Linked DNA regions of Homo sapiens: all the other regions are linked to region 4. The links come from fine-mapping of genetic effects on gene expression. A gene starts in region 4. Each other region holds a variant in brackets. All regions are shown on one strand. Distances are from middle to middle.

Region 1 (8,102 bases), 68 kb before region 4:
CTGGGATTACAGGCGCCCGCCACCACGCCCAGCTAATTTTTGTATAGTAGAGACGGGGTTTCACCATGTTGGTCAGGCTGGTCTCGAACCCCTGACCTTGTGATCCACCCACCTCGGCCTCCCAAAGTGCTGGGATTACAGGCGTGAGCCACCGCGCCCGGCTATTATTATTAATTTTATATATTTATTTTGAGACAGGATCTCACTCTGTCACCCAGGCTGGAGTGCAGTGGCGCAGTCTTGCAAGCTGTGCGCTCCCCAGTCCCCGCCTGATGTGATCCTCCCACCTTGGCCTCCCAAGTAGTTGGGACTATAGGCATGTGCCACTACATTTGGCTGTTTATATTATTAATTAATTATTAATTTTTTGAGACAGAGTCTCACTTTGTCACCCAGGTTCAAGTGATTCTCCTGCCTCTGCCTCCCAAGTAGCTGGGATTACAGGCATGCCCCACAATGCCTGGCTAATTTTTGTATTTTTAATAGAGATGGGTTTTTGCCACATTGGCCACACTGGTCTCGAACTCCTGACCTGCAGTGATCAGCCTGCCTTGGTCTGCCAAAGTGCTGGGATTACAGGCGTGAGTCACTGCGCTCGGCCTATATTATTATTGTTAAATTACCATTCTTACTGCTATATATGATACTAAGTTCTTATGTATAGAGTATAGGCAGAGGCAGCTTTATGACCAAATTTGTAGTCATTGTTAGACTTGTTTATTCAACTGATTTCAAAACTTATCAGCAGTATTTTTTTTATTTATAGTTTTTGTTTTATCTGTTGATGGTGGTACATTTTTAAGTGATTATTTTTCAGCAAGGATTTGTCAGTGTTAAATTTTCTCTGCCTTACCGACCTGAGAATTCTCTCTTTTGCCCTCCCGTGGAAAGACAACACTGTGTGCAGGATTTTTGTGTCATAACCCCTTGTTCTATTCGTTCTGCCTCTCAAATATAACACGCATTCTCTCTCTCTGTTTCTCCTTCAGTTTTTCAAGCATTTCGTATTTCAGAGAGGTTCATGACCAAAGCAGCAAACACCATAATTTGTTAAATATTACCCCAGGGTGTCTCTATATGTGGGTTTATATATTTTTATTTGGAAAATGTGTGATTATGTCTAACTATGCTTTTATCCCTCTTTATATTGGTTTCTTCTTGACTCTTAGCTTGAATCTCTGATTTCTCTCCTTTATTTCTCACATGTTATGTCTTATTTTAATATGATTGCCCCTTTCTTCTGAATCTCATTAAACACTGTCTTCCATATATTTCTGGCATTTACTGCAGCTCGTGTGAATTTTGATTTTATTGTTTACATTTTTATTTTTTGAGACAGTGTCTTGCTGTTGCCCAGGCTGGGTGCAGTGGCACCGTCATGGCTCACTGCAGCCTTCATCTCCCAGGCTCAAGCAGTCCTCTCACTTCAGCCTCCTGAATAGCTGGGACTACAGGCATGTGCCACTGTGCTTGGCTAATTTTTTTATTTTTTGTAGGAACAGGGTCTCATTATGTTGTCCAGGCTGGTCTTGAACTCTTGGGCTCAAGCAAACCTCCTACCTTGGCCTCCCAAAGTGCTGGGATAACAGACGTGAGCCACCGTGCCAGGCCTATTATTTACATTTTAAATTTCCCTGCTTTTTTCCCTCATCTAATATACTTTCTTACCCCATCTTGTATATTCTCTAGGGTTTTTGGTTCCTATTTCCTAGATATCACGTCTTTTTGCATTTTATGAAATATGACAAGAAGTATTCTAAAATGTTCTTTTGATTTCTATGGGTGATCATTTTCATTGTTTTCAAGCTGATTTTCTGTATTCCTTGGGCCTATTTTTGTTGTTGTTTTTATTTACTATTGTTATTTTTATTTCCTTTCCTCCATCTTTGAATGAGGAGACCCATATGTAGTCTCAGCACTGTGTTGTATTTTTCATTGTTCGGATATGTATACTTGCATGGAGTTGCTCTTATTCCTGTTTTTATTCATCTGGGTGCTGGTTGAATTGCCATCGAAGATTTATAATGAAATGGTTTGTGGGTGTAAAAAGCTCCTTGCCAAATTCCAGTATCTGTCAGGGTTTTGTACAGAGAAGCTCTGCTGTACTGAGGAAGAATTGTGGGCGTGCCTTTCTCCATCATCTGACTCTTTAAGATTGAGATGACAGAGTATGAGAAAAACTTGAATCCTAACTTGGTACTGCTTTAGGAGTTTCAAAAAAATGTTTGCTTATGTTTTCTAATAAGCAATATGTTTCCTTCACTCACTACTGTCCCTTCTACTCCGTCGTCTTCAGACTGTTGCAGTCTTTATTTGTATGTAGAGCAGTACTAAAGGAGTAGATAAATAAAAAAGGAAGACACAGAGGGCAGCTGCCTTGTTTTTAGGTTGATTAGAACTTGTGCTTCTAGAAGATCTAGAGGATCGACAGTGAGGGAAAGACTACATGTCTTGTATATTCTTTCAGACGTCATTCATTGAATTTTGCCATTTTAATAAGATGTTGGGTATGGCTGCATTGGGAGCTACTAGCCAGCTGCTTTTTTTTTTTCTTTTTTTTAATTAAAAAAAAAGGACACAGTGTCTTGCTCTGTCTCCCAGGCTGGAGTGCTGTGGTGCAATCACAGCTCACTGCAGCCTCGACCTCCCAGGCTCAAGCAATCCTCAGCCTCCCGAACAGCTGGCATCAGAGGCGCATGCCACCACACATGGCTAATTTTCAAAATTTTATAGAGACTAAGGTTTTGCCATGTTGCCGAGGCTGGTCTTGAACTCCTGGGCTTAATTGATGCTCCTGCCTCGGCCTCCCAGAGTGCTGGGATTATAGGCATGAGCCACGCTCACCAGCTGCCAGCTGTTACTTTAAACATGAACTCCTCGAAGACATTAGTGTCAGAAGCCACAAAAACTTAGAATTATTAAAATTTTAAATAACTGCCAAGAGGTTGATGGATTTCATACATTTGATTATAGATTTCAAGGGAACACTCACCTTATGAGTAGACTGGGTTTTCCATATACATTAAATGATCTTTGCTTCGTAGATTCTTTACTATGAATTTGGTAATCACACTTACCCAAATGTAGTTACACTCTGTCTTTGATAATATGGTTCTGTACAAAAACTAACAGGAAGAAATTATGCTGATGGGGAGAGGAGAAACATTTGGAGACAGAAGCTGTTTCTCATGGGTTACTTTAAAAATGATGCTATATTATACAAAAGAAAAAATGATAAAAATTTTTAATGAAGCTACAAGGTCTCAAAAATTGAGTATCGTGTGATATCTTCTGTTTGTGCCTTTTAGTATTTTAGGAACACATAACAGGTTTTTCTTTTTCATAATTTAAGTGAGTTTTTATGAGGTAACATTATTTGCTAGAAGAGCTGAGATCTTTTTTTTAACACAAAAGGAATAAATTCAGGACTTGCAAGTCAAATTCGTCCTTGGGTTAGTGGTTCTTTCCTTCTCTGTTATTGCAGGAGGCTTTAAGTTTTTAGTCCACACTGTAGGCTTCTGACCACAGCTAAATTAGCTGTATATTTACATTCTGGCATTCTTGAACCAGGACGTTGTTTGTTTGTTCTGTCTTTTGTGGGCATGGGCGTGCCTGGCTTCTCTGGTGAGGAACATTTATGCAAATTTATCTTTCTTAAATGCGACTAGAAAAAGAACAAAGCAAACATAAAATTCAGTAATTTTTTTGTATGTGCTTAATCACTCTTTGTATTTTAAACATTCATTGTAGTTTATTTTTTTTTTATTTTTTATTTTTTTTTTTGAGATGAAGTCTTACTCTGTCACCTAGGCTGGAGTGCAGTGGCGTGATCTTGGCTCACTGCAGTCTTC[G/A]CCTTTGAGTTCAAGCGATTCTCCCGCCTCAGCCTCCCGAGTAGCTGGAATTACAGGCTCCCGCAACCATGTGTGGCTAATTTTTTTATATTTAGTAGAGATGGGGTTTGACCACGCAGGCCAGGCTGGTCTTGAACTCCTGACCTCAAGTCATCTGCCTGCCTCGGCCTCCCAAAGTGCTAGGATTGCACGCATGAGCCACGATTCCCAGCTTTAACATTTTTTTAATTATTATTTTGTGATAGCTTAGGTGTTTGTGATTACAAGAGTAGCTGTAACTGGTTATTGGCAGGAGCAAAATATGATCAGTAGAAAAACATGCCCAAATTAGTAATTCAATTTATCATTTACAAATAGATGATATGTTATGAGAGAATAAAGGAATGAATTATTTACTTTTTCTAAGACATAGTTACTTCTTACCTGTTTGAACTTTAATTTTGCTTTTGATAAAACAACATATAGAAATGATTTTTTTTTCTCTCCCTAGAAACTGCTTTTCCATTAATCTTCTTCCTTGGAGCTAATTAAAAATTTTTTTCTCATTGAAGGCCAACTGTGATTTGAGACGGCAGATTGATGAACAGCAAAAGATGCTAGAGAAATACAAGGAACGATTAAATAGATGTGTGACAATGAGCAAGAAACTCCTTATAGAAAAGGTTAGTGAATAATGTTGGTCTAAACTCTGTATCCCAAGATACTCAATGTGTGTCATTGTGTGGCTTCTTATTCCTTACTTGAGATGAAAATATTTAAAAGTAGAGCTTTTTAGGAACATGATTTGACAATTAGAATTTTTTCCTTACATGGACACCAGACCAACCATCCAGAGTGTTAATTTGGGATATGCTTTGTTGCTGTGCATTGCTTTGAGTGTGATATTGAACAGAGACAGCTTGTCCTAGTTGAGTTTATTTGGGGTATTGCTCTCCTATATTCTTATATTCATTCTATCAATTGAAGTGAGTATCCTATTACTATTAGAATCATTAACAATAGTTGCATTTTTGTTTCAGAGATGGCATTTAGAATAACTTATGTATATAATAATGTGATAATTAATGCTTTGTGCATTAAAAAATTAAAGTTGTCATATACCTGCATATGATTACTTAATTGGCTGATGTCCTCTTTATTATATTCATTGGTTAATTATCACTTATCTCTGTTAATAGGTATTAGTAACTATTAGAATTTTTTTTTTTTTTTTTTGAGGCTGAGTCTCATCCAGGCTGGAGTGCAGTGGCATGATCTCAGCACACTGTAGCCTTCGCCTCCCAGATTCAAGCAATTCTCCTGCCTCAGCCTCCTGAGTAGCTGGGTTTATAGGCGTGCGCCACCATGCCCGGCCAATTTTTGTATTTTTTTTTTAATTATACTTTAAGTTTTAGGGTATATGTGCACAACATGCAGGTTAGTTACATATGTATACATGTGCCATATTGATGTGCTGCATCCATCAACTCGTCATTTAACGTTAGGTGTATCTCCTAATGCTGTGCCTCCCCACTCCCCACAACCCACAACAGGCCCCGGTGTGTGATGTTCCCCTTCCTGTGTCCATGTGTTCTCATTGTTCAATTCCCACCTATGAGTGAGAACATGCAGTGTTTGGTTTTTTTGTCCTTGCGATAGTTTGCTGAGAATGATGGTTTCCAGCTTCATCCATGTCCCTACAAAGGACATGAACTCATCATTTTTTATGGCTGCATAGTATTCCATGGTATATATGTGCCACATTTTCTTAATCCAGTCTATCATTGTTGGACATTTGGATTGGTTCCAAGTCTTTGCTATTGTGAATAGTGCCACAATAAACATACATGTGCATGTGTCTTTATAGCAGCATGATTTATAATCCTTTGGGTATATACCCAGTAATGGGATTGCTAGGTCAAATGGTATTTCTAGTTCAAGATCCCTGAGGAATTGCGGGGTTTCGCCATGTTGGCCAGGCTGGGCTTGAACTTCTGACCTCAAGTGATCCACCCGTCTCGGCCTCCCAAAGTGCTGGGATTACAGGCGCTCACCACTGCGCCCAGCCTATTTCTTAGAAGTTTTAAGAAGACAGTACTTCCTAATGACAATATTACAAGAACAAACTAGAGGTTTGAGATATACTGGAGATTTATTTTCCTGAAATGTTTGGAATGTTGTTAAAAAGACAGGAAACACTGTCTTTCAGTAAAAGTGAAATGAATTATTTTATTGAGGCCGAAGATACTGGGGGAAATTTTGTTTCATTCTTTGACTCATTAATCAACTTTATAGAAAAGAAACCACTTTTTAAAATTTTTTCTGAGAGTGAGAAAAAATAAAATATATGCTAATCCAGATAATTTCTTTGAAGTTTTAGAATACTTCCTGAAATCAGCAGAGATTCAGCCAGTTGTTCTAAACTCTAAATAGCATACTACAAAAAGTAAACATAATGCTGTCTCTGAGTTCTCACAGGAAAACAACTTTCTCTTTGCTAGGAGTAGTATATAACAAAATTTAAATTTGTTTCCAAAAGAACTGAAATTGTAGTATCTACTTACTGACTTTCTAAATAGGGAGTATTTATTGAGTATCTGCTACACCGTGATGCAATATAAAGCAGCATAAATGGACTGGGTGTGGTGGCTCACGCCTGTAATCCCAGCACTTTGGGAGGCCAATGAGGGTGGATCACTTGAGGTCAAGAGTTCGAGATCAGCCTGGCCAACATGGTGAAACCCCATCTCTACTAAAAATACAAAAATTGGCTGAGTGTGGGGGTGTGCGCCTGTAATCTTAGCTACTCTGGAGGCTGAGGCACGAGAATCACTTGAACCTGGGAGGCGGAGATTGCAGTGAGCCTGAGATCATGCCATTTCACTCCAGCCTAGGTAGTAGAATGAGACTGTCTCAAAACAAAAAACACACAAATGAAAATGCAATCATAGAGTGCAATGTTATCTTTCATAGAATTTGAATACTTTAAAAATTTTAAAACTCTTATAACTTAATCATAAAAAGACAACTCATTAATAATGAGCAAGAGACTTGAACAGATAGTTTACAAAAAAAGAGTGTATAAAAATACGCAAATGGCAAGCATGAAAAGATGTTTAATGTCATTATCCATCAGGAAAACTCAAGGTAAAACCAGCGTGAGATAGTACTACAAACCCAGTAGAATGACTAGAAATAAAAAAAACCTGACAGATCCAAGGGTTGGTGAAGATGAGGGGCAGCCTGATTTGTTACACCAATAGAAATGTAAAATATTACAGCTACTTCAGAAGGTTTTTGGACAGTTTTTCTATTTGAGATAAATATGTACTAAATCCTGTGATCCAGCAGTTCCTCTCCTGGCATTTACCCAAGACAAACAAAAGCAAATGTTGGCCGGGCATGGTGACTCACACCTATAATCCCAGCACTTTGGGAGGCTCAGGGAGGAGGATCACTTGAACCCAGGAGTTTGAGACTAGCCTGGGCAGCACAGCAAGACCATCTTTATTTTTAAAAACAGAAGAAAGTAAATGTCCATAAAAGTACTTGTATGAGAATATTCATGGGAATTTTATTCATAGCCAAAAAGTGGAAACATCCTAGGTGTCTGTTAACAAGTGAATGTAGATACAAATTATTATATTGTCATACAGTGGAATACTACTCAGTAATAAAAAAAGAATGAATTTCTCATAATAGAACAGCTTGCATGAATCTAAGAAACAAAAGACACAGTTCCTGCCATCAGAGGGTTAACAGTCTACATGAGGGTGGGCGAATAAGACACATTCACATATATAAGGAAACCTATTCAGATGAGCAGTGCACATATTAAGAATTCACTAAAATTAGCTGGGTGTGGTGGCACACACCTGTAGTCCTAGCTACTCAGGAGGCTGAGGTGGGAGGATCATTGGAGCCAGGAGTTGGAGGCTGTAGTAAGCTGTGATTGCACTGCTGCACTCCAGCCTGGGCAACAGAGTGAGACCCTGTCTCTTAAAATAAAAAAAAAGAAAATAAATTCACTAAAATAAATCAAGGGCAGGGGACTAATTGGAGAAAGCTATAAAGAAGAGGAAAAATGTGTTCTGGGCATGGAAAACTGCAGCTATAAATTGCCTGTTGGTTGAAATAGACAGGACATCTCAAGGACTTTTATCCCATGGTATCATCTCTCACAGTACTTTATTCTTTTCCTTTGAATTCTTTACCGCGTCTGTACTTAGAATTACCAATTAATATATTTAGTGGTTATAACTCCCCCTCTCT
Region 2 (8,102 bases), 53 kb after region 4:
CTTCTCTATCTGGGCTCACAAAAAAGAAACAAATAATCTCTTCTCTATCTGGACTCATTTAAAAAATGTGTTCAGAATACTGAGCGCAATACAAGTGCTTGTTATTACTATTATTACCATTTCACATTCATTATCTTTCTAACCCCTTCAATAACCTGATGAGGTAGATGATGAAGCAGGCTCGGTGAGGTTAAGCAGCTTGCCTGAGCCCTCACAGTGGGTGAACCCAGAGCCAGGGCTCTGCCTCCATTCCCTTCCTCCCTCCTGGCTCCAACCCCAGAGAGCATGTCTCTGAAGAGGTGGCCAAGCTGGTTCCCAGTGTGAGGGCCGTGCTAGTGCCCTGCCGGGATGTGAGGGAGGACCAGACTATGAATCCTTCTCAGAGCCTGGGTCTCCCTTCCCTCTCCTTCAGGGTACAGCCGTGGGGGCTGCGTGGCGCTGGCCACTGGCAGCGCCATGGGGCTGTGGGAGGTGAAGAACTGTACCTCGTTCCGGGCCCGCTACATCTGCCGGCAGAGCCTGGGCACTCCAGTGACGCCGGAGCTGCCGGGGCCAGATCCCACGCCCAGCCTCACTGGCTCCTGTCCCCAGGGCTGGGCCTCGGACACCAAACTCCGGTATTGCTATAAGGTAGGGCAGCCTGTTGGCCGGGTAGGGGGCAGGGGGAGGACAGGAGCAAAGAGACAGTTTGGATGGAGGTCCCAGTGGGACCAGCCACAATCCAGAGACACACCAGGCTGCAGACGGGTGATTTCTGGTGAGACTTGTCCATGGAATCTGGAGGCCTGGTGCTCAGTAATCATTTGAGGAATTGAGGGAACCACAGATCATTGATTTCAGAGGTTCCCAAATGTTGGGGCCAGCCTAGCTGTTCTTCAGAATTGCTTGGGGAACCTGATAAAAATAAAATCTTGGCCGGGCGCAGTGGCTCACACCTGTAATCCCAGCACTTTGGGAGGTCAAGGCGGGTGGATCACGAGGTCAGGAGATCGAGACCATCCTGGCTAACATGGTGAAACCCCATCTCTACTAAAATACAAAAAATTAGCCAGGTGTGGTGGCAGGCGCCTGTTGTCCCAGCTACTCGGGAGGCTGAGGCAGGAGAATGGCATGAACCCAGGAGGCGGAGCTTGCAGTGAGCCGAGATCGTGCCACTGCACGCCAGCCTGGGTGACAGAGCGAGACTCCGTCTCAAAAATAAATAAATAAATAAATAAAGATAAAAATCTAGGCTGTCACAATGGAGATTTAGATTCATTAGGTCTGGATTGGGCCTGGTAATCTGTATTTTTAATCACGCTAGGTTTGGGAGCCACTGGCAGAGTCCGAGGTCTTTTATTATGCACAGAAACTGAAGTCTAGGGAGAAGAAGGGACTTACCCACGTTAAGCTGTGGCTCTGCTGGGATTAGAGCCCAGATCTCCCTGCTGGTCAGGGGATGGGGCTCAGGGGCCCTCTCCAGAAGGTGACTGTGCCAGCTCCCCTCCCCAGACCTCTGCAGATGAACAGGATTGTCCTTAGCTAGCCTTAGCCCCCTGTCCAGTAAGGCTCCAGGCCCCTCCTCTGCCATGGTGGGAAAGGCAGTAGGTGCCCCCTGAGGGGTGGGCCAGTGGGGACAGCTTAGACAGCTGGACTCTGCCCCTGCAGGTGTTCAGCTCAGAGCGGCTGCAGGACAAGAAGAGCTGGGTCCAGGCCCAGGGGGCCTGCCAGGAGCTGGGGGCCCAGCTGCTGAGCCTGGCCAGCTACGAGGAGGAGCACTTTGTGGCCAACATGCTCAACAAGATCTTCGGGTACTGAGCCGGGCTGAGGCGTGTTAGGAGGGCACCCGCACACGTGTAGGAGCAGGCATGGCCGACAGACCCTTGGTTTTGTTGGGCGAGCAGGGGGATGGCAGAATGTGGGTGACCCCAGGGAGGCCTGCATCTGCTGCTGGTGCCAGGACCATCTTGTCCTCACTCAAGTAGCCATGGTGCCCTGGCATCTTGGGAGAACAGGCTGGTGTGATCCATGCACTCATAGGAGACTGTGTTTTGCTCACCATCATCCCCCCAGCAATGCTCCAACAGACCCACAAACTTACATATGTACCCCCCACCCCATTGCAAAATCTCCCACATGCTGGTCCTGGCAAGTGTTTCCCCTCACCTTACACCATCCTACAATGACCCACACTCCTCAATCCACAGTTTTTCCTGAGAGATAGGAGGAGAAAGGCCGCAGCTATGAGGATTTGCCCATGGGCCTCCCTCTGAGACACCACCTCTGTCCTGGGCTCTGAGCATTAGCACGTGGAATCCCCTAGCACTGGGAAAATCGAGATGGATCTGGGCTTCCTGATAGCTTAATTGAAGGGATCTCTCCTCTCAGCAAACATTGAAATTACATTATTTGTCTCATAATTACAATAGCTCATGGTCATCACTTCTCACCACGTACCAGGCACTGTGCTAAACATATAGTCCTCACTCAAGCCTCCCGACAACCCTATGGAGCAGACGTTAACCCCTGACCCTTGTGGGTTGATAGAGAGGTTATTTGCCCAAGTTCATGGGTGAACGGATACTTGAATCCAGGTTTATTTAACTCCAGAGCCGTAGATCCCTGCCACCTCCTCATCTGAACTTCCTAAACTCCGTAAAGTAAAAGCCTGCAGAATCTTGCTGGACAGGGCACCCCCACCCAAAAGGAACCCAAACAAAGGGGAGGGGCCACTGCCCCTTGAGTGGATGGCTTGGTCCAGCTCTCCCCAGCTCTGTCTTGTGGGGAGAACTTTACCGAAGTGACCTCAACGCTGTATCGATGGGTCAATGTGAAGCCCAGATGGAGAGGCCCCAGGCCCTGGGGGCTGCCCCGGTCACAGCTGCAAGGGACAGGGGGCACGTTTGGGTTCCTGCCCCTCTCACTTCCCATCTCTTCCGTCCCCACTCCTGGGTTGTGCTGAAGTGAATCAGAACCCGAGATCCACGAGCAGCACTGGTTCTGGATCGGCCTGAACCGTCGGGATCCCAGAGGGGGTCAGAGTTGGCGCTGGAGCGACGGCGTAGGGGTGAGGGGGCCTGGGGTACTTGGGACTGCGAGGCCGGGAGCTTGGTGGGCGGGGCCTGTTTGGGGCGGGGCCTGGAGGTGGGCGGGTTTTCTTGAGGGCCGGGCCCCCAGTCGGAGCCGGCTTCAGGAAAGCAGGTCCGAGAGGGGTCACCCGGCCCCCGGTGAGAATTCGCAGCTCAGGCCAGGCCTCTTGTTCACCTGTTCCGGGCATGGGGGCGGCCTGCACCTTGCGCCTCACGTTCCTCTTCCCTCCACCCGCCTCCTCCAGTTCTCTTACCACAATTTCGACCGGAGCCGGCACGACGACGACGACATCCGAGGCTGTGCGGTGCTGGACCTGGCCTCCCTGCAGTGGGTGGCCATGCAGTGCGACACACAGCTGGACTGGATCTGCAAGATCCCCAGAGGTTGGCCGGAGTGGCGCTGGGGGACGCGGGATGGAGCGAAGGGTGGCGGGGCCAGGAATTCCAGGGAGGGTCTCCTTTCCTCACAACGTCTTTGTCCTTGTTCCCCTAGGTACGGACGTGCGGGAGCCCGACGACAGCCCTCAAGGTGAGCACCCCCCAGCCCATCCCGCTACCCATCGCGTGGGAGAGGGCGTCAACTCTGGGGTAAGTCCCGAGAGGCCTGAATGAAATGGAGGGGATGAGGAGTTCCGGTCGAGAGAAGGGGGACGGGGTTGGCTCGGACGGAGGCAGCCACAGCCCTGTTTGCTTCCGT[G/C]TGGGAGGCGAGGCAAGCCTGGGGCCTGGGGCCTGGCACGGTGCCTGCCTGGGTCCGGTGTGCCTGCAGGCTCGCCTGCTGCCGCCTGGCTCTGCCCCGGCCCTGCCGCGCCCGCCTCCGGGGCCTGGCGTGCAGCCTCTGCCTGGCCGCCGCTCCCACGCCCGCGCTGCTCCTGCAGGCCGACGGGAATGGCTGCGCTTCCAGGAGGCCGAGTACAAGTTCTTTGAGCACCACTCCACGTGGGCGCAGGCGCAGCGCATCTGCACGTGGTTCCAGGCCGAGCTGACCTCGGTGCACAGCCAGGCGGAGCTAGACTTCCTGAGCCACAACTTGCAGAAGGTGGGCATTGGATTGAGCAGGGGGCTGCAGGCTGGGGGAGGGCAGGCCCGGGATGAGGGCAGGGGGCTGCCTACCCACACCTGCCCGCCTGGCTTCTCCAGTTCTCCCGGGCCCAGGAGCAGCACTGGTGGATCGGCCTGCACACCTCTGAGAGCGATGGGCGCTTCAGGTAGGAACCCAGGCAGGCAGCAGATGTGGAAGGGGGCTGGCTGTCCACACACGGAGCACAGAGGCAGACTTGCATTTGAATCCAGCCCTGCCCCTTCCTTGCTGGCTGTGTGGCCTTGAGCAAGATACTTAACCTTTCTGGGCCTTGGTTTTCTCATCTGAAAATGGGAATATGAGGCCTGCCTGGTAAGATTTTTGTGAAGATTAGAAATAACATATGCGAAGTGCTTACGCAGCATCCAGCACATTAGTTACTAAATAATGGCAGCTCCTGTTACGTCTGGTGTCATTCATCATGACTAAGGCCCTCTCGGGGAAGTGGGCAGAACATATGATGATCCGGGGGCCTCTTTGTATTTGGTGCCTACTTACCATGTACTGGGGGGCTTGAGGCAGGAAGGACCAGGAGCACCTGGGACTCAGAATTTGAGCTTGTCTTTTTGCCCTTGGGCTTCCTGCCCTGGAGTCCTCAGGCTTCTTTTCTGGAGCAGCAAGTGTCCAGGGACAGCTGGGGCCTTATCTAGAGGCACCAGGTCCTTGGGTCTTTGACTGCCCTGAGCTCAGTAGCTCCACCCCTCAGCCTACAGCCACTAAACCCCAGAACCTGGGCCCTTCCCTGCCCCCATTCCTGCGGCCTTCATTGCTGCATCCGGTGGAGGCCCAGCTGGGGGCCGGTGCTGGAGTTACCTCTGCTCCATGCCATTGCAGATGGACAGATGGTTCCATTATAAACTTCATCTCCTGGGCACCAGGCAAACCTCGGCCTGTCGGCAAGGACAAGAAGTGCGTGTACATGACAGCCAGCCGAGGTGAGGGCAAGGTGGGGGCAGAGTGCGCAGTCAGCTGTGCAAAGGGTTAATGCTGGGCGAGCCTGGGCAGAAGTCATCAGTCTGTTCTCATTCTCTTTGTTCCCACAACCCAATAAAGGCTAGACTCAGCGAGGGGTGGACCTGTCTCCATGGTCCAGAAGACTTGAATTCGGAGCTGGACACAGGCCCTGAGCCTCTGCCCAGACTCCTCTCAGGGCATGAGGCTGAGTGTGCTGCCAGCCATGCCCTGCCCTGCTCTGCCCTGGGGGTGACTGCCCTCCCCTCCCCTTTCCGCAGAGGACTGGGGGGACCAGAGGTGCCTGACAGCCTTGCCCTACATCTGCAAGCGCAGCAACGTCACCAAAGAAACGCAGCCCCCAGACCTGCCAACTACAGCCCTGGGGGGCTGCCCCTCTGACTGGATCCAGTTCCTCAACAAGGTAGGAGGTGGCAATGGGGCACCCAAGGGAGTCAGGGGAGAGGACGTGAACAGGGAAAGGCTGAGCCTCAGGAGTCCTGGCCTTTTGGCAGCACCAAACTCATGGCCTCTTGCCTGTACCCACCAACTTCTCTTTCACCTGGCTCCAGTACCAGGGCCAGACTCCTTGGAAAATGACTCACTGTAGTAGCACCTTCCAATCCTCCGGGAAGCAAGGTTGTCCAAATAATTTGGTGAGTGTTCTAGATCAGTGATTGCCAAAGATTTTTTTTTTTTTTTTTTGAGAAGGAGTTTCACTCTTGTCACCCAGGCTGGAGTGCAGTGGCGCGATCTCGGCTCACTGCAACCTCTGCTTCCTGGGTTCAACCAATTCTCTTGCCTCAGCCTCCCGAGTAGCTGGGATTACAGGCACCTGCCACCACCCCTGGCTAATTTTTGTATTTTTAGTAGAGATGGGGTTTCACCATGTTGGCCAGGCTAGTCTCGAACCCCTGAACTCAGGTGATCACCTGCCTTGGCCTCCCAAAGTGCTGGGATTACAGATGTGAGCCACCGCGCCCGGCCTGATTGCCGGCCTGATTATCAAAGATTTTGATAATGAACTCCTATTAGTAAAACAAAATATTGAGCTTACATGACCAAACTATGTGTGTGTACATTTAACTTATATATGTATATGTGTGTGTAAATAAAACCTACTTCCATACTAATATGACTAATATTATATATAGTAAAATATGTATAAGAACAAAAGAGTATAAAACATTAGCTAAAGATTTTTAAATACTTTTAAGTTTAAAACATTTTTTTGGCTGCGCGTGGTGGGTCATGCCTGTAATCCCAGCCCTTTGGGAGGCTGAGGCGGGTGAATCACCTGAGATTAGGAGTTCGAGACCAGCCTGACCAACATGGAGAAACCCCATCTCTACTAAAAATACAAAATTAGCTGAGTGTGGTGGCACATGCCTGTAATCCCAGCTACTCGGGAGGATGAGGCAGGAGAATTGCTTGAATCCTGGAGGCGGAAGTTGCGGTGAGTCAAGATCGTGCCATTGCACTCCAGCCTGGGCAACAAAAGCGAAACTCCGTCTCAAAAAAATAAACAAAGAAAAAAAAAACAACAAAAAAAACACCTTTTTTTTTTTTTTTTTTTTTTACTAGTGGTATGAAAACATTTTTTTGTGCTCACTCAAAAGTGATTAATTGGCTGGGAGAGGTGGCTCACACCTGTAATCCCAGCACTTTGGGAGGCTGAGGCAGGAGGATGACTTGAGCCCAGGAGTTCGAGACCAGTCTGGACAACATGGAGAGACCATGTCTCTACAAAAAATAGGAAAATTAACCAGGTGTGATGGTGCACACTTGTAGTTCCAGCTACCCAGGAGGTGGGAAGTGGGAGGATCTCCTGAACCCAGGAGGTAGAGGCTTCAATGAGCCATGGTCATGCCACTGTATACCACCCTGGGTAATGGAGTGAGACCCTTTCTCCAAAAAAAAAAAAGATCAATTATAATAATTATTGTTTAATATGCTCACTTTGGCAGCACATGTACAAAAAGTGAAACAATACAGAGAAGATTAGCATGGCCCTGCACAAGGATGCTATGCAAATTCCTGAAGGGTCCATATTTTGCGTAGTTCATGAAAGTTGAAGGTTGTTCAACAAAAAAATTGTCTAAATAATTTTAATAAGAGCAATGTGATTACATGTACTTCACGTTTTTAAAAAATTTTAGTCTGACACTTTATGACTCATGACTCACAGGTCTAACGTGTTGAAAATCAAAGTTATTTCAAAACATGCATTTCATGGTGGCTATAGATTAAATATGCCTCACAAAGACAAATAGATTGAAGTGAAAAAAGTTCATCCATCATTTCTAAATAATTCTCCCCATTTTTAGTCCTTCTACCAATTAAACAAACATTTTTGTTTAAAAATTGGCTAGTAGGCTGGGACGCTGAGCACTGGGAGGATCACTTGAAGCCAGGAGTTCGAGACCAGCCTGGGCAATGTAGCAAGACCCTATCTAGAAAATTCTTTTTCCAAGTGTTTTGAGTGTGCAGGTAGGAAAGTTTGGGGCACTGACATTAATCACTATGGATGCATTTCTCAACACGTTTTTACAACACCCCCTCCATAGTGTGAGTTTCTTCCCCACAGTCGTTATTTTTCCATGCACAGGCTGATTTATTAGACCTGATTAGTCCTTCATTGTTTTTACCTGGCGATTGACAACGAGTTCATACCAGGAAGAGAAGGTTGTCATTTTCCTTGTTATGTGCCAGGGTAATTGGCATTAATCTCAAGCCATGGCTTCTTTGCAGGACATTTTAAGAACACTTAGCCCTGTTGTGAAGATTAGATTAGTTAACACTGAATAATATAATCCACAAATCCTTGTCATACACAGGAAGGCAGCCAGCCTCTTAGTGTCATGGATCTCCTGCCCTCCTCAGAATATTCAAAAGAACATTACACGGCCAGGCGCTGTGGCTCATGCCTGTAATCCCAGCACTTTGGGAGGCCGAGGCGGGTGGATCACCTGAGATCAGGAGTTTGAGACCAACCAGGGCAACAT
Region 3 (8,102 bases), 42 kb after region 4:
CCCTATGAGGTGTGCAGCAAGACCTCTCTCTGGTTCCTGGGCTGACTCAACAGCAGAAGAAGCCTTAAAGCCACTATGGGGTGCCATTGCCTCTCCCACCTGCTGATCCCTGTGAACACCCAGCACTCTGGGTTTTAGGGGATTTCTCCTGAGGGTCGAGGGGCTTGGCAGCCTCTGGTGTCCAGATGCCAAGGGCCTGGCCCCTGTCCACCCCCTGCAGAGGTCTACACCATCCAGGGAAACTCCCACGGAAAGCCGTGCACCATCCCCTTCAAATATGACAACCAGTGGTTCCACGGCTGCACCAGCACGGGCCGCGAGGATGGTCACCTGTGGTGTGCCACCACCCAGGACTACGGCAAAGACGAGCGCTGGGGCTTCTGCCCCATCAAGAGTGAGAGCTGTTGGAGCCGTGGGGGCGGGGGCAGTGTTCCTGGAGGGAGGCTGGTGCTGAGGGGCCCCGGGGCCCAGGGTGAGATACTGCCCCCTCCCCTACCTAGTGTAGCCTTTTGGTGGGGGAGGGTCTGCACTCCCGAGGGACCCTGGAGGGGGCCTGAAGGAGAGGGCTGTCGTGGTGGCAGGTAACGACTGCGAGACCTTCTGGGACAAGGACCAGCTGACTGACAGCTGCTACCAGTTTAACTTCCAGTCCACGCTGTCGTGGAGGGAGGCCTGGGCCAGCTGCGAGCAGCAGGGTGCGGATCTGCTGAGCATCACGGAGATCCACGAGCAGACCTACATCAACGGTGAGCCGGGGCCTGATGCCTGCTCGTGCCTCTGGAGGGCCCGGGCCCTTTCCGCTTGTGGGTTGGGGAGAGGGCGATGGGGAGCGGGGGAGGCTGGGGCTGGGGATCCCCTGTTCAGTGTCCCTCCTTGCTGTCAGGCCTCCTCACTGGGTACAGCTCCACCCTGTGGATCGGCTTGAATGACTTGGACACGAGCGGAGGCTGGCAGTGGTCGGACAACTCGCCCCTCAAGTACCTCAACTGGGAGAGTGGTGAGGCACAAGGTTGGGGGCGCAGGGCAGCATAGGGGCCCCGCGGGCTCTTGGCCTCCCATGGACTCCTCTCCTCATGTCCTCCTGCAGAGGGGCAGTGTGGGTAGGGGAAGCACCGACCTCCACCCCCCTCCCCAGACTGCGCCCCCCTAGCCCATGTAGGGCGGCGCTGCCCCAGGCCGAAGGTCTTGGTGCATATGGACTGGGTGCCAGCCTCCACTCACCTCTTCAGCCACCCCTGTGGGCAGCGGGCACCAGCGCACCCAGCAGCCTGGACGGGGAGGCCGGGGCGGGGCTGGTACTGGTTACTGGGTAGAAGGTTCAAGGCGACGTGCACCCAGGTTAGAAAGCGCGGAGGACCCCGTGGTCTGGGGCGGAGCTGGAGCTGAGCACCAGGCTTCCCGAACTGGCTCAGGCTTCCGAGGGAGCAGAGGGAGGTAGGAGGTTCTGAGCAGGGCCCCGGGAGCCACGGTGTGAGCTTCTCTCTCCGGGGGTGCTGGCGCCCTGCCCTCCCCACAGACCAGCCGGACAACCCCAGTGAGGAGAACTGTGGAGTGATCCGCACTGAGTCCTCGGGCGGCTGGCAGAACCGTGACTGCAGCATCGCGCTGCCCTATGTGTGCAAGAAGAAGCCCAACGCCACGGCCGAGCCCACCCCTCCAGGTGAGCCAGGGACTGTGCCGCAGGGTGGGGAGGGGCTCCCAGGGCCAGGGACACAGCCACAGAGCCGTGGCAGGCCCAGCCTCTCCTCCGGTTACCACCACAGCACAAGGGGACTCTGGATCCTCTGACTCTTATTTCATTGTTCAGTTAAAGTCTGAGCAAATTGGAATATGTCATTAATTCATTTGGGGAACATGTGCTGAGATCTGTGTTAAATGCTGGCAATACCCACTGTTACCTCGTAGAGACCACAGTCTGCTGGAGGTGACAGACATCTCAATGCAGTTAGACTATCCCAGGTCATGAGTGATTATAGAAATATGGATCAGTGTTAGAGGAGCATAGAGAAGAAACTGATTCAGCTTCTGAGAGTTAAGGAGGGGTTTATGGAAATAACATTTGATTTGGGCCTTTCAAATTGAGTCTAAGTTTAAAAGATATAAAGAGGTGTGGGGGAAGGGCATTCCTGGCAGAGGGAAGAGCATATGCAAAGGTGTGGAGGCCTAGAACTACACTGCAGCTTTAAGGGGTGGTGAGTGATGGCCGGGCACCGTGGCTCACACCTATAATCCCAGCACTTTGGGAGGCCAAGGCAGGAGGATTGCTTGAGCTCAGTAGTTCAAGACCAGCCTGGGCAACATAGCGAGACCCTGTCTCTGCAAAATATTTTTAAAAAATTAGCTGAGTGTGGTGATGCACGCCTGTCTACTAGGGAGGTCGAGGTGGGAGGATTGCTTGAGCCTGCAAGGTTGAGGCTGCAGTGAGCCTCGCTTGCACCACTGCACTCCAACCTGGGCAACAGAGCGAGACGAGACCCTGCCTCAAAAAATAAATAAATAAATAAATAAATAAATTTAAAAAAAAAAAGAAAAAAGAAAGAAAAAGAAAAAAATGGATGGTGCCTGTTGCAGTTTGGGTGGAGTATAGATTCTAACCACTTCAAGTATGGTCATCCAACCAGCAGCACAGCATCCCCGGAGGGCTTGTTAGAAATGCACAGTCAGGCCCGCCCCAGAGTAATTGAATCAGAACCTGCATTTAACAAGATCCTCAGATGATTCATGTGCAGACACAGTTTGGGAAGCCCTGGCTTAAAGGGCATGGTGAAGAAGAGGCAGGTTGCAGCCAGTCTCTGCAGGGTCTTGGCTGCTGGGCCAAGTTTGGGTGGGGCCAGGTAGGCTGTGGGGAGCCTTTGAAGATGTTTAAGCCAGGGAGTGTCTGGTTCTCGTTTGTGATCATAGAGACAGCTTTAGGGGCCTCGTGGAGGAGTTGGGGCAATGGACAGGGTCTGCTTTAGGGATTCTGCCCCTTACTGCTGTGTGGCCCTGGGCAAGCAGCTTAGTCTCTGGGGTGCAGAGTCCTCATTGCAAATGGAGAATGAAGCCACCCCCCTTGCAAGGTTGTTGTGAGGAAGGCTGGAGATCTGGCCTGGCACGAAGGAGTTTTTCTGTAGTTGGCTGTGGATGTTTACTGTGGTGTAGGTTGGAGGGGCTGTGCAGTTTCCTGCGAAGCTGTGGGGTGGTGAGGAGACTTTTACAAAGAAAATATGGCAACACACACACACACACACACACACACACACACACACACACAACACTAACTACAGACAGTAAAGAGTTTACAGAGCAAAACTTCTGCTCCTGACCATGGAAGTCTTGCCAATGATCGACTCAGGACTGGTTTTTTTGTTTGTTTGTTTGAGACAGGGTCTCACTCTGTCACCCAGGCTGGAGTGTAGTGGTGCGATCTTGGCTCACCACAACCTCTGCCTCCTAGGCTCAAGAGATTCTCGTGCCTCAGCCTCCTGAGTAGCTGGGATTACAGGCGGGCATCACTACTTCCCGGCTAACTTTTGTATTTTTAGTAGAGACGGGGTTTCACCATGTTGGCCAGGCTGGTCTTGAACTCCTGACCTCAGGTGATCTGCCCACCTCGGCCTCCCAAAGTGCTGGGATTACAGGCGTGAGCCACCGCACCCCGCCTTTTTATTTTTATTTTTATTTATTTATTTTTTGAAACAGAGTCTCGCTCTGTCGCCCAGGCTGGAGTGCAGTGGCACAATCTCCACTCACTGCAACCTCCGCCTCCCAGGTTCAAGCGATTCTCATCTCCAGGTTCAAGCGATTCTCATGCTCCAGCCTCCCGAGTAGCTGGGATTATAGGCATGAGTGTGCCACCACGCCCGGCTAATTTTTTTGTATTTTTAGAGATGGGGTTTCACCATGTTGCCCAGGCTGGTCTCGAACTCCTGTCTTCAAGTGATTCACCCGCCTCGGCCTCCCAAAGTGCTGGAATTACAGGCGTGAGCCACGGCTCTGGCCTGATTCAGGACTGCTGACCACTGCTTTATCTCCCATTCCGTAAGGGGCCAGGAGCAGAAGCTTGAAACGTCAGCAACCCGATCTAGGGCACCTCCACCTCTAGCTGGAGGGAGCCTTGGGCCCTAGTCCAGTCCTCCCACAAGCACCTTTCTGAAGGAAGGGGCCCGCTGGGAGGCCCGGGTGTGGGCATGCCTAGCCTATCTGTGGCCCCTTACCAAGTCCTCTGTCCTCTGGGTCTTCCCGGACCTGCAGACAGATGTAAGGCCTCGGATTTCCGCCCCTCTGCCCAGCCCATATCTCTCTGCACGAGGCATATTCTAGGCAGGTTCTGCTTTCCCGGTCTCATCACTTAAGTCCTGTCATTTCGAAGGCAGGCGCCCCGTCGTGTCCCCAAAGCATCCACATTTCCCAAGCTCCCTTCCGGTCCTTGAGGCCCCTCGGGTCTCAGCAGCCACTAAAATCCGCTTGTCTGGGGCGGCAGCCTCAGGTCTTAGCTCATTGGCTAACAAGAGATGATTGACAGGTCCTGAGCCAGAGAGCGAGCCCACCGGGCTCTCAGTCCGCCCAGCTTTGCCGGGTCTCCAGGAGCAGGTGTGGCTGGACCACTGGAATCCCAGTCTGAGGCCGTGTTCTAGTGGGCGCGCAGTTTCCTGCCCGACTAGGCAGAATCCTGCCCGAGCATGACACTGTGGGTGGTTTGGTGAAGTCCTGTTTTCTCTTGCCAAGACCAAGTAAGGGCTTGTTTGCCTCAGCTGCCCTCGGA[T/C]CCCAACCCCTAGAAGGTGAACCTGAAAGGCATGGAAATCGGGGCAAGGGAGGGCCTGGGACGGGTGGATTTCTCAGCCCTGGGGTTCAGGGTTAGGAGTTAGGAGCGGGGAAGGAGTCCCAGCTGGGGGATGGGGCCGATCTGTAGTGACTTTGAGCACCTCCTAATGTTCTCGGTTGCCCGTCCACCAAGACCTCAGATTCCTGGTGGGCTTGCCTGGGCCCCATTAGTGGCTCAAGGTCCCGTTTCCCAGTTTTCTCCCTCCTGGGCTTCCCAGACCTGCACAGAGTGGGTGCTCAATAAATGTTATTTGAGAGAATAACAGTGATTCCATTTACTAGGCAGGGGGCCATAAGCCAAGCTTGAATCTCATAGCAGGAAACCCCATTTACAGAGGGAGAAACTGAGGTTCATGGGGCTGGTTTGTCCTTTCTACCCATCGTTTATTGACTGATTGATTGATGCATTGATTGAGATAAGGTCTTGCTGTGTCGCCCAGGCTGGAGTTTAGTGGTGCAATCATGGCTCACTGCAGCCTTGACCTCCCCGGGTCAAGTGATCCTCCCACCTCAGCCTCCTGAGTAGCGGGACCACAGGCGCACATCACCATGCCTGGCTAATTTTTTATTTTTTATAGAGATGGGGTCTCCCCTTTGTTGCCCAGTCTGTTCTTGAACTACTGGGCTCAAGCAATCCTCCAGCCTTAGCCTTCCAAAGTGCTGGGATTACAGGCCTGAGCCACCATGCCTGGCCCACCCATCGTATTCTGAGAGCCACAGCCAGAGGAAGTGTTCTGTCCTGGGTGGAATCTGCCACCACGACTTGGGTCTCTGTCCCGGGGCTCCAGCAGCCCTGTAAAGTTTTGTGTTTTTTTAGCATTTCCAAGACCTGTGGTGGGGACCGGGATTGATCTGGGAGAGTTTGGAGAGGAGGTGACTGGGAGGCCTCGCCTGTGTTGACGTCAACCCAGTGGGTTGGTTCCCAGACTGGGCGGCTCAGTCCCTGAGCAGCAGCCTCATGGGTCTCTGCAGACAGGTGGGCCAATGTGAAGGTGGAGTGCGAGCCGAGCTGGCAGCCCTTCCAGGGCCACTGCTACCGCCTGCAGGCCGAGAAGCGCAGCTGGCAGGAGTCCAAGAAGGCATGTCTACGGGGCGGTGGCGACCTGGTCAGCATCCACAGCATGGCGGAGCTGGAATTCATCACCAAGCAGATCAAGCAAGGTGAGGAGCTGCCCGCCCACGTGTCTGGGTGGAGGGCAGGGCCTCCCACTGCCCCACCCATCCTGTCCAGGAGCCTCAGAGAATGTTCCTTCCTCCCTACTGGTGGCTGAGGCTGACCTCTCAATGTTTTCTCTCCCCTCCTCTCCTGCTGCACCCCCAGAGGTGGAGGAGCTGTGGATCGGCCTCAACGATTTGAAACTGCAGATGAATTTTGAGTGGTCTGACGGGAGCCTTGTGAGCTTCACCCACTGGCACCCCTTTGAGCCCAACAACTTCCGGGACAGTCTGGAGGACTGTGTCACCATCTGGGGCCCGGTGAGATCTCCCTCTCCCTATCACAGGGCCACAAAATACACCCCCAACCTCCAGGTGCCACCCCAGCTGAAGGACATCCTAGTTACTATCAGAACCTGCCTGGAACCTCTTACCTCTCAGCAGTCCCCCTCCTCCCCACCAATGCCTTCCCTTCCATGTGAGAGACTGCCGGGGCTTGAATCCTACCTCCACCTCCACCTCCAAGTAGCCAAGTCACCTTGGGCAAGTTACTAGAGGGTCACTGGGGAGATCAGAGGAGTTAATTCTCGTGAAACCTTAGGCACAGTGCCTGGCGCATTCTTGGTCTCCTCCCAGCTGCCCTTCCCTGCCAGAAGGTGGCATCAGAACCCACATTATGTGCAGATACTTTGCAAGCAGGGCTGCACTCTGCCAGCCCTCGCCCCCAGTGCTCTACCCAGTCCAGGGTCCTGTCATCTCAAGAGATTGTTGGGTTTTATGACAATTTGCCATGGTTTGGGCTTAGATGTGGTGTAAGTGAAGGAATTGATGGAGGGCTTCAAGCAGAGATGAAAGACCCTTAAAAAAGGGACAAAGCCAGCTGAGTGTGGTGGCTCATGCCTATAATCCCAGCACATTGGGAGGCTGAGGCAGGCGGATCACTTGAGGTGAGGAGTTCGAGACCAGCCTGGCCAACATGGTGAAACCCCATCTCTACTAAAAATACAAAAATTAGCCAGGCGTGGTGGCAGATGCCTGTAATCCCAGCTACTCCAGAGGCTGAGGCAAGAGAATCGCTTGAACCTGGAAGGCAGAGGCTGCAGTGAGCTGAGATTGCACCACTGCACTCCAGCCTGGGTGACAGAGCAAGACCCTGTCTCAAAAAAAAAAAAATAAAATAAAAAGGAGAAAGCCGTAGGGACACAGACCACCCTTCCTAGGGACAGACAGGATGTTCTGCTGTCACATACTGCAAACAGTGCTGTGGACTGTAGTGGCAGTCATTTGCCTTAGGGGATGCTATTTAAGAATTTTAAAACAATTATGTATTGAGTATCTACCATGTGCCAGTCATTTTTCTGGGTGCTAGGATACACAAACACGCCTGCCCTCAGAATGGAGCTTAGAGACAGACATACTGCTGGCTGGGGGCCTGTGGATACTGGGGAGGGCGAAGACAGAAGCAGGGGCCGAGGACTAAATTCCTCCTCAGCTTCATCAGCTGAGATTCTGGTCTGGGCACACTGGCCTCTGCACACTCTGGCCCTGCAGGCACTAGCTAGACGCCTTGGGAATCCAAGCTGTCTATCCTGCCATCAGTTACTCTAACAATCTTAGCCAGTTTGTTTTTGATATTTATAAAACGAGTTATCAATAATGTAAAAGGACGCCTTTCCTTTTTTTTTTTTTTTTTTTGAGATGGAGTTTCACCCTGTCGCCCAGGCTGGAGTGCAATGGCACGATCTTGGCTCACTGGAACCTCTGCCTCCCAGGTTCAAGCGATTCTTCTGCCTGAGCCTCCCAAATAGCTGGGATTACAGGCATGCACCACCACAACCGGCTAACTTTTTGTATTTTCAGTAGAGATGGGGTTTCACCATGTTGGCCAGGCTGGTCTTGAACTCTTGACCTCAAGTGATCCGCCCACCTCGGCCTCCCAAAATGCTGGGATTACAGGCATGAGCCACCGCGCCGGGCCAGGATGCCTTTCCCATTTAGACAATGCTTGTTAAGTTTCAAGGCGTTTGCACATGAACTGCTTGTGCTCTCATCCACCCTGTGAGGCTTATGGGTTCATCCCGCCTTCCCCATTGCACAGCTGGGACACAGACATGTCAGAATCACACAGTAAGTCAGAGACAGGG
Region 4 (8,102 bases):
AATGGCGAAGTCAGGATTTGAACTCAGGTTTCTCTGGATCCAAAGTCTGTACTCCTTCCACTAAACTGTTTGATTGATTGATTGATTAAAGACAGGATCTCGCTCTGTTGCTCAGGCTGGAGTCCAGTGGTGATTATAGATTCACTCCAGTCTCAAATCCCGGGGCTCAAGTACTTCCCCTGTCTTAGCCTCCCAAGTAGCTAGGACTACAGGTGCATACCACCATGACCACGCCCAGCTAATTTTAAAAATTTTTGTAGAAGTGTGGTCTTGCTATGTTGCCCAGGCTGATTGTTAACTCCTGGCCTCAAGTGATCCTCCCACCTTGGCTTCCCAAAGAGCTGGGATTACAAGACCTGAACCGCCACACCTGGCGTAAACTGGTTTTGATGAAATTAGCAGACCCACAGGGGGTGATGCTAATACAGGATTAGACCATTCTCTCATTGCTATAAAGAAATACCTGAGACCAGGCCGGGTGTGGTGGCTCACACCTGTAATCCCAGCACTTTAGGAGGCTGAAGCAGGTGGATCACCTGAGGTCAGGAGTTTGAGACCAGCCTGGCTAACATGGTGAAACCCCTCTCTACTAATTAGCTGGGCATGGTGGCACGTGCCTGTAATCCCAGCTACTCAGGAGGCTGAGGCAGGAGAATCGCTTGGACCTAGGAGGTGGAGGTTGCAGTGAGCCAAGATTGCACCACTGCACTCCAGCCTGGGCAATGGAGTGAGACTTGATCTCAAAAAAAAAAAAAAAGAAAAGAAATATCTGAGGCTGGGTAATTATAAAGAAAAGAGGTTTAATTTGCTCATGGTTCCACAGGTTGTACAGGAAGCATGATGCTGGCATCTGCTCAGCTTCTAGGGAGGCCTCAGGAAACTTAAAATCATGGCGGAAGGGATGCAGCAGTTCACATGGCTGGAGCAGGAGCGAGACAGAGAGTGGAGAGGTGCTGCACACTTTTAAATGACCAGTTCTCGTGAGAACTCACTGTCATGAGAACAGCATCAAGAGGATGGTGCTAAACCATTCATGAGAAATCCACCCCCGTGATCCAATCACCTCCCACCAGGGCCCACCTCCAACACTGGGGATTACAATTTGACATGAGATTTGGGCGGGGACACAGATCCCAAACCATATCACCCTCAGTACCTGTTGCTGGCTGACAGTTGGTCAGTGTCTAGGGGAGAACCATTCTCAGCTTCAGTTCCACGATAGCGAATACCATCTTGGCAAAAATCCCCTGGACAAGTCAGAGACCTCACTAAGTCTCCAGCATCTAGCCTGATGCCTGACACATACTGACCCTCAATAAACGGCTGTTCAACTGTGGGCACAGGAATGGTGAGGAGGCTGTGGGCACAGAGGACGCTGGCCCTTCTTTGGAAGCAGATGAAGGTCTGGGTGTTGATGAGGGGTTCCTCGAAAGTCCCATGCTGCTCACAACACCCAACACTCCTACAGACTGTGACCATGTTCTGTTGACAACTGAGCCTGCACAGGATCTTTATGCAGTAGGGAACCGGCCCGGATTCTCCACAGGGAGAATCTCCCAGATGTTTCCCCGCTTTCTGCCCCAAAGTCAAGATCAAAAGCAGTTGGCAGCTGCAGACATCAGCAGAAGTCAGTGGAACACAGTGTGGAACCATGTCGCGCTGGAGGAGGAAGTCTCGCGCTGGAGGAGGAAGTCTCACCCTTGACAGAGACTAGAACTGGGCCTTAGAAGCTTGAACCAACCTCTGTCCCTGCGAGAGCAGCACACTTTTGTGCTCCTCAGCCCTTGCGTCTTCTTTGCCTGGAATATGGCAAAACGTTTATTTTCCCCCACTAAATGAGGCTCCTCTAGGGCTGCAACTGTGTTTGCCCATCTCTCTTTCTCTAGCAGCTAGCACAGGGCTAGCAGTCGGTGCTTGTTGAGCCGGTGGGTGAAGAGACGAGAGCACACCTCCTGTGTGCCCGGCATGGCGGGACCTGGTGCCGGCAAGTGGTGGGCTCTCTGGCCTCATGCTCTGCGCTGGTGATGTCAAGGGGTGGGCTTCTGTCCTGCCACTGATAGTAGGAGGGAAGGCCAGCAGGAAACGCCGAAACCTACTCAAGCTGCTGGAGAAGGGGGAATCCAGCCCTGTTTCAGGGGAAGGAGTATCCTGTGTTCTGAGAGCGAGAGAGCAGCTTAGCCGGCAAATCCTTAAATCCTTCAGAGATTACAGGATTGTGCAAGAGGGAAGGCCAAGAGGGGGACCTCTGAGGCAGCTCCAGCATGGCCTGTTGTGTGCAGAGGACTGAGATCCCAGAACATGCCACACCAAGAAGACATGTCCCAAGGGGCAGTGGAGCCACAGCCACCAGAAGGGACCTGGCCCTGTCGGACCTGCTGAAGCTAGCCGTGGAGTGCAGGGGCTTTGTTGGTCTGGCTGCTAACCAAAGGGTGGCTAATGGGACCCTTTCCAGGGGCCTCTAGGGGATTTCAGTGGGGGCTTGCTTCGAGGCTCTATTACCACTGGACTGTTTACCAAGAGCCTCAGCCTGACAGAGATGGGAAGAGACGAGTGAGCATTTCTGACCCAACACCCCCACTGCAGAGTTGGGGAAACATTTACCCAAGATAGGAGGAATAAAAAGGAAAAAAATTGAATTTATTTCCAAAAAACATACCAAGGTGGACAAGATAGGAAACAATACAATTTATATTACAGTTTTATTATTATTTAAAAATTTTATATTAACAAAATGAGATGGGATCTGCCTATGTTGCCCAGGCTGGTCTTCAACTCCTGGGCTCAATCTCCTCGGCCTCCGAAAGTGTGATTACAGGCGTGAGCCACCGCACCCGGCCCATATTACAGTTTCATAGTGTTTTTGATTACTCGTGGTAGGAGAAATGTGTCTTCTTTGCACTTGGGGTCTCAACGTCTCAGTCCTGCCCTATGCCCCGAGACCCCAAGAGGCTTTCCCAAGGTCAGGCAGGGAATCCGCAGAGAGGCAGGGCTGGACTCCAGCATCCTGACTCCCCAGTTCGTGCTCTGTGCTGCAGAGACCTGTTGCGTAACACTGAGTAACTGTGGATTGTCTAACCTTTTATGAAATTTCCAGCTGGTCTTTTGCTACCGGCCAGCAGTCCAGTTGGTGGGAGTGATGATGCCGGTCTTCTGAGACGTCCAGTGGACAGATTTTCCCCAGGTTTCTGGATGCAGCCCCAACAAGCAAAAGTGCTACACTCCTGCACCGGGAACACTGACACAGGGGTCACGAAAATGCTAAAACAAGACGTGCAAGAATTGTTGCGCTCCGCACACGTAACAAGGGCTCTGCCTCCCCCTCCCCCAATCTTCGCCCTGGTGGCCAGGCCCTGGGCTCCGCCCCTTCCCCACCAGACCGGGGGAGGGGTCCTCCTCGGCATGGAGGTAGGGGATGCTAGGCTGCTGGAGACGCCCGCAGAAAGAGGCGGGATGGCGGGGCGGATGCTGGCGGCCCGGGTCTGGCCACCTGGGTCAGCTGCACGCCCCCGCCCCGGGCTGGCCGGACCTCGTAGCCCAGGTCCCACCACGCCGTGAAGTTTGCGGAAAGTTTTGCAGTTGCTTCCCCGCCCGCGCCAGCGGGGGAGTTGTGACGCAGCGTCTGGGGATCCTGGCCGGGACAGAAGAGAGGGAAGGCGAGGCGGGGAGAGACTGGGAAACAGAGCAGCAAGAGAAAGGGCGCACGCTGGGGTCCTCCTGGACCCGGCGTGTCCTCCTCTCCGCCACCCCTTTCTCTCCCTCCCGACGCTCTAGCCCCAGACCCGCGCCTCCTCCCCTTCCCCTCCCACGCTGCCCACTTCCCTTCCCCTCTACCCCTCGAACCCTCCTCCCCGGTTCTGCGCTCCTCCCTCCGCCCTCCCTCCGCCCGGGCTGCCTCCTCCCTCCTCCTCCCCGGGAGGCATCACTTCGTCCCGACCCGGAGGAGGACGCGAGCCCCTTGCGGGCGGTCATCACAGCCCAGCCTCGGGGCTGCCACAGCGCGTTGCGCCTGTGCGCCCTCGGTCCCCGCGTCCACTGAGCGCCGCGCTCGGGGATGGGGCCCGGCCGGCCGGCCCCCGCGCCCTGGCCTCGTCACCTGCTGCGCTGCGTCCTGCTCCTCGGGTGCCTGCACCTCGGCCGTCCCGGCGCCCCTGGGGACGCCGCCCTCCCGGGTAAGGCGCTGCCAACTTGGCCAACTTCAGGGCCCGGGCGGGGGGAGCGCCGAGGCGCGGGCCGCTCTCGACTTTTCCCTCCTTTTCCCCCCTCTTTTCTCCAGAAGCGTGTGTGCGTGTGTGTGTGACTGGGTTTTTAAAACTCGTCTCCGCTTTTCTGAAAGCGGGGGAGGAGAGGGGAGGAGGAGCGCGCCTAGAGGTGGGGGAGGACCTGAGTGGAACCAGATGTGGCGGGCGGCGGGGGAGGGGAGCCCGGGGGACTCCAGCAGCCTAGGAGGAAGCGGGTGGGCTCTTGAGGACCCCCGCGCACCGCGCTCCCGGACCACCCGGCGCCGGCCCGTCCTCGGCAGGGGACCTGCAGGGCGCGCCCGGGGAGCCAGGGCTCTCTGTCCGGGAGTTCCCGGGCCCAGTCTCCTCGCTCTGCCCCAGGACTGATGCGTTAGGACGGCTTTCCAACTATCCGCGAGGGTTCGTTTCCCCCACCTTCCCCCCGCCCCCTGCATCTCGTGGGCGTTGATATTTTCTTTTCCACACTTAGTCTTCAAGGAGGCTTGTGGCGCGCGGCATCCGCCCCGCGTGAGCTCGGCAGCCCTGTGAGGAGGCTCCTGCCACTGGGACGCAGCAACAGGCTGGGCGCCGCCGTGCTGTGATGTTGCGTAGCGTGGGCAGCTCTGGGCACACTAGTGGCCCTCCAGAGGGGACAGACCTTGAGCGGCAAAAGAGCTGCTAAAGATTTTAAAACCCAACGAACAGGAAACAAAACAAAAATCAGAAAACCCCAAAACTGTGCCATTCTCTTCCTGCTCCTTATTCAGGGGTAACAGTGAAGTGTGGGGACAGACAGATCCCTCGCCAAGAATCTAAGAGTTGAAAGGAAAGATCCACTTCCTGGGGGAGTGGGGGTGGGGGTGTCTGGAGTGACCGGGGGAATCGCCCGGCCCAGCTTGGTCCTGCTGGCTGTTTAATTGGGGGATGGGGACAGTCCGTGCAGTGTCTGCAGTTTTGTGCAAGGACCAGACAGCCCCCTGGAGAGTCTGGGGCCTCCAGCCTGGCCCGTGCTTGCTGGGTTGGCCTGGCGTGACGTAGGCACAAGACACATATCTGCCAGATGGGAAAGGTGGGGGCCACGGTGACCCACATTCACACCAACCGGAGACCCCCGGGGCAATTCTGGGCCCACCTGGCATTGAATGTGGGACAGACACAAACCAGGCCGGGTAACCCCCTAACCCACTGCAGGGCGGCCTCACAGGCAGTTCCCCTACCTCCTCGCACTCCTGCCTTCCTCTGCTCCTCTGCGCAGGGCCTCAGGAGGCAGGCGGTGGGAAGGGGTGGGGAGGATGGCCATTCCCAGAGCTCCAGAGCACACTTTAAAGCCAGGCCCTGGGAGAGAGTTGTGGCCAGAGTGCTGACTCGGCCTTTCCCCCTGGAGCTTTTCATAGAGGGGGCTGGAAGTGCCTGGTGAGAGGCCCGGTCAGGGAGGACAAGGACGCCTGGAGTGTCCCTCCTCCTCCTGGTCTCTGTGCCTGGCCCTCCCTGGGGCTGTGTCCAGGGATGAATAGCCTCAGAGGGTCCCCTTCCCGTTGGCACTGCATTGACCACACCCTGAGGAGGCTTGGATCTGGGTGGCAGGCAGTGTGAGGTCTTCCAGCAGCAGCTGAGCAGGAGGAGGATGGAGCTGCTGCAGGTTCCTTCCCTCGGAACCGTGCCCTCTGCACAGAGTGCGCTTGCCCCTGCCCTGCCAAATTCCACTGGGCCCTACCCTGGGAAGCCTGTTCAGAGCCTCTGGGCCGAATTCCTTGCCCGAAGAGCTGGCAGCCCCTAGTACCTGGTGAATTACGTTGTTGTTGGGAGGAATTCACCAGCACCAGAGACCAAATAGCCCAGGAAATGCATGTGGGAGGTAGGGTGTGGCAGGCCAGTGCTGCTGGGGGCGAGGCTTATGCCAGGCAGGGCAGGGGCTGCGTGTGGGCAGTTTCCTGACCACCATGGGGGAGCCCTGTGTGCCCAGAGCACGGGGCAGGGGCAGCGAGGCGGCAGTGCCTTCTTGGTGCGTGATGGTGGAATCCATCTTTTCTCCACCTTGGTGGAGTGGCCCGCGGAGACTGTCACTGGAAGGAGTCCTCTTTGTTAGTTGCCATATTACCGCATTTCTGGAGCATGCAGTTTGCTCAGCCTTGAGCCAAGTTCTTGGGGAGGAGGGAAGGTAGAGAAGAGTGTAAGATGCATCCTCTGGAAAAAGAAAATCGTGTGGGAGAATGAAACGTGGAACAGTGAACTGCGTAGGGGGCAGAATGCCATTGGTGGGATGCCTGCCTGCCCAGACCCACGCTCAACCCTTCATGTGCAAGTTCCCATTTCATTTTGATAACAACCCAAGGAGATGGTTATTGTTGGACCATTTTTGCAGTTCAGGAAATGAAGGCTAAGAGGGGTCTGATCATTTACATTGGTCACACCCCTAGTAAGTGAAAGGCTGGAGTGTGGATGCTTCCCGTCTGGAGATTGGAGGCAGGAGAGACCGTATGGGCCAAAGGGTGGCCAAGGCTGTCTGGAGAGAGGCAGGAAGGGGCCACCAGGCTGGGCTCTTCTGGGGATGATGTGGAAGCTTGCTGGCTGGGCCGGGGAGAAGGTTGAGTGAAAGAGGTGCCTGGGAGGCCAGAATGGGGATGGGACCTGCAAGCTGGCTGTGGGGAACCCCAGGGGACCCTTGGAGGTTTCCGAGCAGAGGAATGAGGGGATAGTTGCTGGGAAAGGGGCTTCTGGGAGCTCCAGGGATCAAGTCTCAAGGCCATGGGGTGAGGAGACCTCAGGAAATCTTCCTGTGGGGAAGGTCGGTGCTGCCTAAAGGACAGGGAGGGTGGCATCGGGTACTTGGGGCTCTGACCAGAGTCAGCCAGACCAGCTCCCTACACTTCTGGCCCAGCTTCTGCTGAGTCGTGGGGTTCGGAAACTTCTTACTGTTCCCCCACGCAAAACTCAGTTTTCCTTGCTCCAACCCTCTGGCTCTCTGTGAGTCATCAGGGCCCAGGAGGTGCCCAGCCGAGCTGTGGCTAGTGCTGGGATCCTGGCTCTCTTCTGGGTTCACCTGGGCAAGGTGAGGGTACATGGAGGGGAGGAAGAACCCCGGGTTTTGGCCCCCATTTTTCGCACCAGAGAAATCCTGGCTTTCTGATGCACGTAGGGCACCGTGACTTGGCTCAATGAGATGATTTCGGAAGTGCCATGCAGTTCTCAGGCAGATATTCATTTGAGTTCCTCATCAGTTTAAGCATCGAGGAGGAGTCCTGTTGCACTGTCCATACCCCCAGAGGGATGGAGCGATGGCACCCACGGCTGCGCTGTGCATGTGGTGGGCGCCGTGCTGGGTCCTGTGCTGGCAGTAGCTCTTCGGCACCTCCCATCTCTGAGCAGGTGTCAGAGATTTGCACACACCTGGCGTGAAAATGTTAAAGATGTTAAGGGAGTCACTCAAGGCTGTGCCACCACACCACTAGAAGGTGTTACCAGTGAGATTCGAACCCAGGAGTGGTTACGGAGCCTGAACGCTCCAGTACCATACAGCGTTTCCATCGCATGAAGCACTGTCAGTGTGTGTGTGTTAGGAAAGCCTGGGAAATTCTGCCTTATGTGTTCTCCCCGCCCCCATAACTCCAAGCCCTCTAGGACACCTCTCAATGTGTCCCACCGGGAGGACTCCTGAGGAGGAGGGTGGAGCGAGCAGCCCTCTGTCACATGTCAGCGGTCTGGGCGCTTGGGTCAGCCACTTCCTTGTGGGTCCAGGAGGCCTGGACCGAGCCGCCTGCAGTGTCCTCAGGATCTCTGAGGGACCCCCTCCAAGAAGGCATTGATAAGTGAGTGACTCAAGGTGCCCCAGCATGGCACTCCAGCTTCCCTGAGGTCAAGGATTCACATGGTTGTTCATTCATTCAT

What was found. PIP is the estimated chance that this variant, and not a neighbour inherited with it, causes the effect.
Region 1: its variant is fine-mapped to the expression of MRC2 in aorta (GTEx, PIP 0.95).
Region 2: its variant is fine-mapped to the expression of MRC2 in esophagus mucosa (GTEx, PIP above 0.99).
Region 3: its variant is fine-mapped to the expression of MRC2 in esophagus mucosa (GTEx, PIP above 0.99).

Annotation. Positions count from the first base shown.
Region 1 is chr17:62,555,614-62,563,715 of GRCh38, forward strand. TLK2 (tousled like kinase 2) reads left to right here. Exons shown (of 22, transcript NM_006852.6): 10 at 4,403-4,513. Among named protein-coding and RNA genes, the nearest start is that of MRC2, 68 kb to the right of the region's middle. RefSeq lists a silencer at 3,842-4,200. The variant G/A (reference allele first, on the strand shown) is at 3,852.
Region 2 is chr17:62,676,857-62,684,958 of GRCh38, forward strand. It overlaps MRC2 (mannose receptor C-type 2), which reads left to right. Exons shown (of 30, transcript NM_006039.5): 12 at 413-630; 13 at 1,648-1,790; 14 at 2,944-3,046; 15 at 3,314-3,452; 16 at 3,562-3,597; 17 at 3,944-4,104; 18 at 4,206-4,273; 19 at 4,981-5,081; 20 at 5,379-5,521. It also overlaps the pseudogene RNU6-446P. Among named protein-coding and RNA genes, the nearest start is that of MARCHF10-AS1, 25 kb to the right of the region's middle. RefSeq lists an enhancer at 2,926-3,654. The variant G/C (reference allele first, on the strand shown) is at 3,766.
Region 3 is chr17:62,665,874-62,673,975 of GRCh38, forward strand. MRC2 (mannose receptor C-type 2) reads left to right here. Exons shown (of 30, transcript NM_006039.5): 3 at 221-394; 4 at 582-746; 5 at 884-997; 6 at 1,517-1,660; 7 at 5,776-5,964; 8 at 6,125-6,279. Among named protein-coding and RNA genes, the nearest start is that of MARCHF10-AS1, 36 kb to the right of the region's middle. RefSeq lists enhancers at 197-787, 3,586-4,345, 4,346-5,104, 5,424-5,924, 5,925-6,425 and 1 more and a silencer at 6,435-6,729. The variant T/C (reference allele first, on the strand shown) is at 4,745.
Region 4 is chr17:62,623,752-62,631,853 of GRCh38, forward strand. It overlaps MRC2 (mannose receptor C-type 2), which reads left to right and starts at 3,919. Exons shown (of 30, transcript NM_006039.5): 1 at 3,919-4,169. The coding sequence starts at 4,052. It overlaps LOC107985020 (a long non-coding RNA gene), which reads right to left and starts at 4,299. Exons shown (of 2, transcript XR_001752961.3): 1 at 4,094-4,299; 2 at 2,686-3,258. RefSeq lists enhancers at 1,644-2,144, 2,145-2,645, 6,800-7,656 and silencers at 3,839-4,278, 4,479-4,548.